Homo sapiens: one gene and its partner. The protein of the gene in region 2 purifies or fractionates together with the protein of the main gene of each other region. This does not show direct contact. Each region holds a gene or a part of one and is shown on either strand. Other genes may lie near its edges.

Evidence for each region. Proteins that work in one complex are often made in the same cells at the same time.
Region 1: the proteins of INPP5A (region 2) and NEU3 fractionate together in Homo sapiens (co-fractionation; one large-scale study listed by BioGRID). This does not show direct contact.

The regions. Positions count from the first base shown.
Region 1 is NC_000011.10:74,991,933-74,995,432, reverse strand, and holds part of NEU3 (sialidase-3), read right to left. Parts: intron 925-3,500; coding exon 713-924; coding exon of another isoform or gene 506-712; exon of another isoform or gene 395-505; intron 1-394. UniProt on the Homo sapiens protein: Exo-alpha-sialidase that catalyzes the hydrolytic cleavage of the terminal sialic acid (N-acetylneuraminic acid, Neu5Ac) of a glycan moiety in the catabolism of glycolipids, glycoproteins and oligosacharides.
Region 2 is NC_000010.11:132,781,384-132,783,980, reverse strand, and holds the end of INPP5A (inositol polyphosphate-5-phosphatase A), read right to left. Parts: intron 2,121-2,597; coding exon 2,040-2,120; 3' UTR 2,033-2,039; intron 1,945-2,032; 3' UTR 501-1,944; downstream 1-500. UniProt on the Homo sapiens protein: Phosphatase that specifically hydrolyzes the 5-phosphate of inositol 1,4,5-trisphosphate to inositol 1,4-bisphosphate, and inositol 1,3,4,5-tetrasphosphate to inositol 1,3,4-trisphosphate. Plays a crucial role in the survival of cerebellar Purkinje cells.

The DNA of each region.
Region 1 (3,500 bases), on a different chromosome or scaffold from region 2:
CCTTCTTTCCTCACTAAAAATACAGTCAAAATGTTCTACTGAAGAGGAAGGGCTCTAACTCCAGTTCTCCCACTTATTAGACGCGTGACCAAAGCAAATGACCTTAATTCTCAGGCCTGGTTGCCTCCTGCAAAATGGGGATAATAAAATATACCTCACATACAGCATTTAGTAGTAGAAGCGTGGTTATTACTGGTATCCCCCTGTCACCTGCTAAATGTGGTCCTGAGCAAGTTACTTACCTCTTGGAGCACTAGGATCTCTCATCAGCAAAACTGGACTACCAATGCTTACTTCCCTGGGTGATTTATGAGGATTAAATGGAATATAAATGAAAGGCACATCATACGTTAGCTGAATCTAAATAACTGTGGAGGTCTCTGGAGTCAGCGACTGAGTTTGAAACCAGCTTCTACTGCTTTATTATAGCTGTATAACCTTGAGCAAATGGCAACCTCTCTGAGTCTCAGTTTCCTTGTCTGTAAAATATGACTGAAAACAGTACCTACGACACAGAATGGCTGTGAGGACCCAATGTGCCCCTGGCACACAATAAGCACTCAGTGAGAGCCATTGTTTTTGCTGTTTTTTCTGCCTCTGCTCCCCACACAGGGCTTTCCTGTACTGATGAGAAAAGGCACAGATCCTGAAGAGCTCTGAGCTTTGTGAAGAGAAACTGAGGCCCAGACTCAGATCTGGGATGAAGAGTCACCTGTACCAACTGCCCAATCCTCAACCCTCGCCTCAGCACCAGGTGGAGAGCATCCTCATCTCTCCTCGTAGAACGCTTCTCTGCAAAGGCCAGGAAGGTGTGGGTGGGGGGTATGTAGAGCAGGGCTGGGATCCGGTAGGTAATCCCTCTGTCATCTTCCTGCCGGAACAGAGGGCTGTTGAAGGAGCATGTTGTCACTTCTTCCATGACCTCTGCAAGGATAGAAGGAAGCTTAATGTGTGTCCATACCCAGATGCTGGCCTGCATATAAATTCTGCTTCATCATTTCACTTCTGGAGAGCAAAGGTGGGGGGGCACAGATATATTCAAATGTTTCTTTATACAAGAATAACATATGCTCTCAATAGCACAAAGCAAGCAATATACATTCTTGTTTAACAAATGAGAATTTCATTAACTCCAGACCCTGTGGGAATTCTATGTGGCCTGTATCAAGTATGTATCTTGGAGCAGAGCGGTTTTGCATTTGTTTTTGCCAAGCATCCAGGGGTATTACCAGCCTGAGGTGGTTTTTATTATCAACTTCTTGGCTTGGAGTTTCTAGGCCATTTGGGTATCTGTATGAGTGAATGCCTATGGTTAAGAATTTTCTGGGAAAACTTTTTTTCTGTACGAAAGCCTAGGATAAAAGGCAATCTCTTTGTCTTCTATCTGTGTCAGTAGGGAGAATTTTTTTTTTTCCTAGTAGATCTGGTTTGATATTTGTCCCCTCTAAAACTCATGTTGAAACTTAATCCCTGATATGGCAGTGTTGAGAGGTGGGGCCTCTAAGAGATGATAGGGTTATAAGGGCTCTGTCCTCATGAATGGATGAATGGATGAATGGGTTATCATGGGAGTGCATTAGGGGCTTTATAAGAGGAAAACTAGAGATCTGAGCTAGCATAATCAGCCCCCTTGCCATGTGATGCCCTATGCCACCTCCAGACTCTGCAGAGTCCCCACCAGCAAGAAAGCCCTCACCAGATGTGGCCTCTGGACCTTGGATTTCTCGGACTCCATAACTGCAAGAAATTTCTTTTCTTTATAAGTTACCCAGTTTCACGTATTCTGTTATAAGCAACAGAAAGTGAATTAAGATACTAGTCCACCCTATCAGAAGGTATACACCCTACACAGGGTGCAGATTTTCAAGGGACCTAGCTTCATGTGAGTATTTCACATGCCATCCTCTGTCAAAAACTAGAGTCTAACCAGGCCGGGCGTGGTGGCTCACACCTGTAATCCCAGCACTTTGGGAGGCCAAGGTGGGCGGATCACGAGGTCAGGAGATCGAGACCATCCTGGCTAACATGGTGAAACCCCATCTCTACTAAAAATACAAAAAAATTAGCCGGGTGTGCTGGCAGGCACCTGTGGTCCCAGCTACTCAGGAGGCTGAGGCAGGAGAATGGTGTGAACCCAGGAGGCAGAGCTTGCAGTGAGCTGAGATTGCCCCACTGCACTCCAGCCTGGGAGACGGAGCAAGACTCCATCTCAAAAACAAAAACAAAAAAACACCAACAACGACAACAAAAAACCCACTAGAGTCTAACCCATGCGGACCTATAGCTTCATTTGGTATAACAACAGGCCTATTAAAGTCCAAGTTTCTAGGTGAGACATCCAGTGCAGCTGAGGGCAGATTAAGGAGCTAACCACTCTGGTTTTCAGTTCACTCTTGGTTTCTAGGTCCCTGGAGATTTCTCTTACTTTCTTGCAAATTCAGCTATAAAGGGCTTTGTTATTTTTTTTCTTTTGAGACGGAGTTTTGCTCTTGTTGCCCAGGCTTGAGTGCAATGGTGTGAGCTCGGCTCACTGCAACCTCCACCTCCTGGGTTCAAGCAACTCCCCTGCTTCAGCCTCCCAAGTAGCTGGGATTGCAAGCGCCCGCCAGCACGCCCAGCTAATTTTTTGTATTTTTAGCAGAGACGGGTTTCACCATGTTGGCCAGGCTGGTCTCCAACTCCTGACCTCAGGTGATCCACCCACCTTGGCCTCCCAAAGTGCTGGTATTACAGGCATGAGCCACCGTGCCCGGCCGGCTTTGTTATATTTTACCCACCATTTTACAGGTTGGCTACCCTGCCATAATGCTCACAATGGAGTCTCCAAGTATTCTTCTTAAAGAAAACCAGGTGTTCCACTTCTCAGAGGTCCAAAAGGGGAATCAAGCCAGACAGACAAAAAGCAGCCTTAGAATTACTTTTTCCTCAAACCAACTGTCATCCAAACCCAATTTTACAAATCATTTGTAAATATTATCAGGCTGTAAGAACAATTGATTCAATAAATATTTCTAGGTTCCTCCTCTGTGTCAGGCCCTAAAATAGATGCTGAGAAGACAGAGAAGGATCAGAGGTTCCTGCTCTCAAGAAACCCAATCCAAGTGAGGGAAACAGACATATACATGGACAATTATAACATGATGTAATAAGTGCTACTTTAGAGGTAAACACAACAGCAAGTAGAAAAACACAAAAGTGGCATCTATCCAGATCAAGGCACCAGAGAAGGATTTTTGGAGAGAATGATTGAGCCAAAAGAACTCCTGCCTCATATAGTCACAGGCTCTGCCTGGAACACTCGTTTCAGATAGCCACATAACGCTCCCTCACCTTCTTCAGCTCTGCTCAAACATCATCCAATCAGGAAGGTTTCTCTGTCAACTCCTTTGCCCCAGCCTATCTTCTTTCCTTGTTCTATTCTCCACACCACTTATCACACTTTGATGCCTCCTATGTTACATTTGTTTAATACATACCACAAAATGGAAGCTCCAGAAACA
Region 2 (2,597 bases):
GGGCGTGGCTGTTGAGTTTTAATTTTTAAAAATTAAATGTAAATAATGATATCACTGCGGTGGTACGATTTCTCTTGGCATTTGCGGAAGCGTTAAAGGGAAATAGAAAGGGCTTAAACTCGGCGCGTTTTGTTTTAGGCTCTTAGCAGCCTTCTTTACAAGGAAGCAACTCGAAGGGCAGAAGCAACGCTTTTCTGTGGGGAGCCCCTCTCAGCTCAGAGCAGAGGGGCTTCTTAAAGTTTTGAGGAAGGCAAAGCGTTGATATAATCCCGTTTTAAAATGTTGAGGGATAAATCCTTTATTACAGTAGAAAGTCCAAAAGGCTGTGTTTCTCCTCTCAATGAACGGCTTAGTGTTTTGTGACAGCGTGTGATACAGTGAAATTCCAGGATTTCTAATGAGCTTGATCTCAAATAACAGGCTATACAGGAGGCCGCTCCCCTGAGTTAGCATTTCAAAGGTGGCAGGAGAAGGGAAAGGAAGAAAAAGCAACACGGGACTATTTTCACCACGGTCAATTTTATTGCTTAGGAACCAGACCGGTCACTTCCAAAGGCCCCTCAGAACGACCAACAGCTGAAACCCGCGGGGCGGACTCCGTGTTGAACCGCGGACAGCGGCAACCACAGCAGCGACACGGACCTGTGCTTCCACCAAGAACAGATTCCGCAGCGGACAGCAGTCACTTGCAGTGGTAGTATTTATCCCACACAAACACCCAGCTAATGCCTTCACCCGGTCCAGGAACTCTGTAGTGTTCTAAAGTAAAATCAATAAAACATACATTTGTGTTTCATCAACAGACTCTCTAATCACCTTCTAATGCTGTACTTACTGCTATAGGAGAAAAATATTTGCAACAAGGTTATGACATGGGTTGTCTGTAGCGGAGCAATGAGGAAATGTACAGTTTTGTTTCTCTTTAATATTTTTATATACAGCCCATGTTAAAAGCAGTTTCTATTGGAAGCAAACTAGGCTATTTCTATTTCTCCCATGATATTATTGTTGTAACGTAGGATACTTGGCACCATAAAACAGTAACAAAAGACAGACAAACGGTTTACAAAATTCTTAAAAGGTACACCCAGGCTAGCTATAAACTTCACATTCAGTTCTTAATATTACACAGAAGAACGGCATGGGAGTAACGGCCCGCTGGTGCAGACGTGCTGTGGGGCCGATTTTACCCACGATGGCGAGGCCATGTGTGTTTTTTACGAATTTGTGTGTTGATGGACACACAGCTGAGCTCCTAGACTCCAATGCCGCCTGCTGATGGGACTCTCCTGTGCGTTCATACTGGAAAGTATATTTAGCATAAGTTTTGGTAAGATTTATAAATTATTTTTAAAAAGTATATATTTATATATATTTATATATATATAAAAATGGAAAGCAGCTGCAGTGTGATTCAAAAACCATGTGACACGGCGCAGAGTCAGTGCCGCGGAAGGAGCATCGGCAGAGACAGACCCCCTTGCCATGCTCAGGGCCACGCTGCCGGCCGGCAGAGGGAGTGCCCGTCTCGGCTTCCCCAGCCCCTGGACACACCTCCACCTGGCAGAGGGGGTCCCTGGACACAGTGGGGGGTCTCTGTGCTGAAGAAGCCCCTCCACTGGCAATCATTAAAAACTGAAAACTGTGAAGTCTACGGTACAGACCCTCTTTGCTGTCTATTAGAGTTTTGACAACAGGACTGTGACTTATTTAAAAAAAAAAAAAAAAAACCAATATTTCTACTTAATGTCACATAGACAGACGAGACAGTGAGGTATGTGAGGCTGCTCCGGAATGGTCCGGAGGCTGAAGCGAAGTGTGGGGCTGGCCGTCTAGCAGGTGGCGCTTGGGCGGGTTCTCGATGCAGCTTTCAAGAGTGCGTATTCGGTCCACGGCTACAGGGAGGCTCACGAAGTGTCCTCTCGTGGCGCTGGCATCTCTTCCCTGTCACGGAATTCGTAATTTGTTAAAGGAACAAACGCACCAGGAAAAGCTGCGTAAAAGCTGAACTGGAGGGAGGAGTCATATTTACCACCACGTCACTGCACGACACAACACTTGTGCACATGGGCATGAGGTTTACCTGCCCCGGGCATGATTCGGAAGGCCAGGAACACGGGCTGCAGCAGGAAGAGAGGACGGTGTCAGCACGGCGCACGCGGGACAGCACAGCACATGCCGCCGCCTCCCGTTGCACCCCCAGACCCTGCGTCTCACCAGGGCAGCCATGAACCGGGCTGGGAGGAGCTGATGGCCAGCAGAGGCAGCTCGGCCCTTGTGCACAGCCACGGCAGCGCAGGGGTTGGGGGCCCCGTGAATGTGGAACTGGAGCCAGGCCGGCCATGAGAGGTTTTGCAAGGAAGGTGTTATTTCCAGGTAAAAAAATTAATGGAAAAACTGATGTAAAAGAATGGCTAAATAGGCCCCAAATGAAGCGGGGAAGGAAGGCTCTCCCGTCCTCGGCTCTGCCGCACCTGGCAGGTCCAGCGTCTTATCCGGGTGTGTTTGGGGCTCACAGCTCTGGGCCTCCAACGTGGAAGAAGCTAACTCATTTATTGGCTGAAAATGAGATTTGATCTGTCTCCTGTGCACACTCT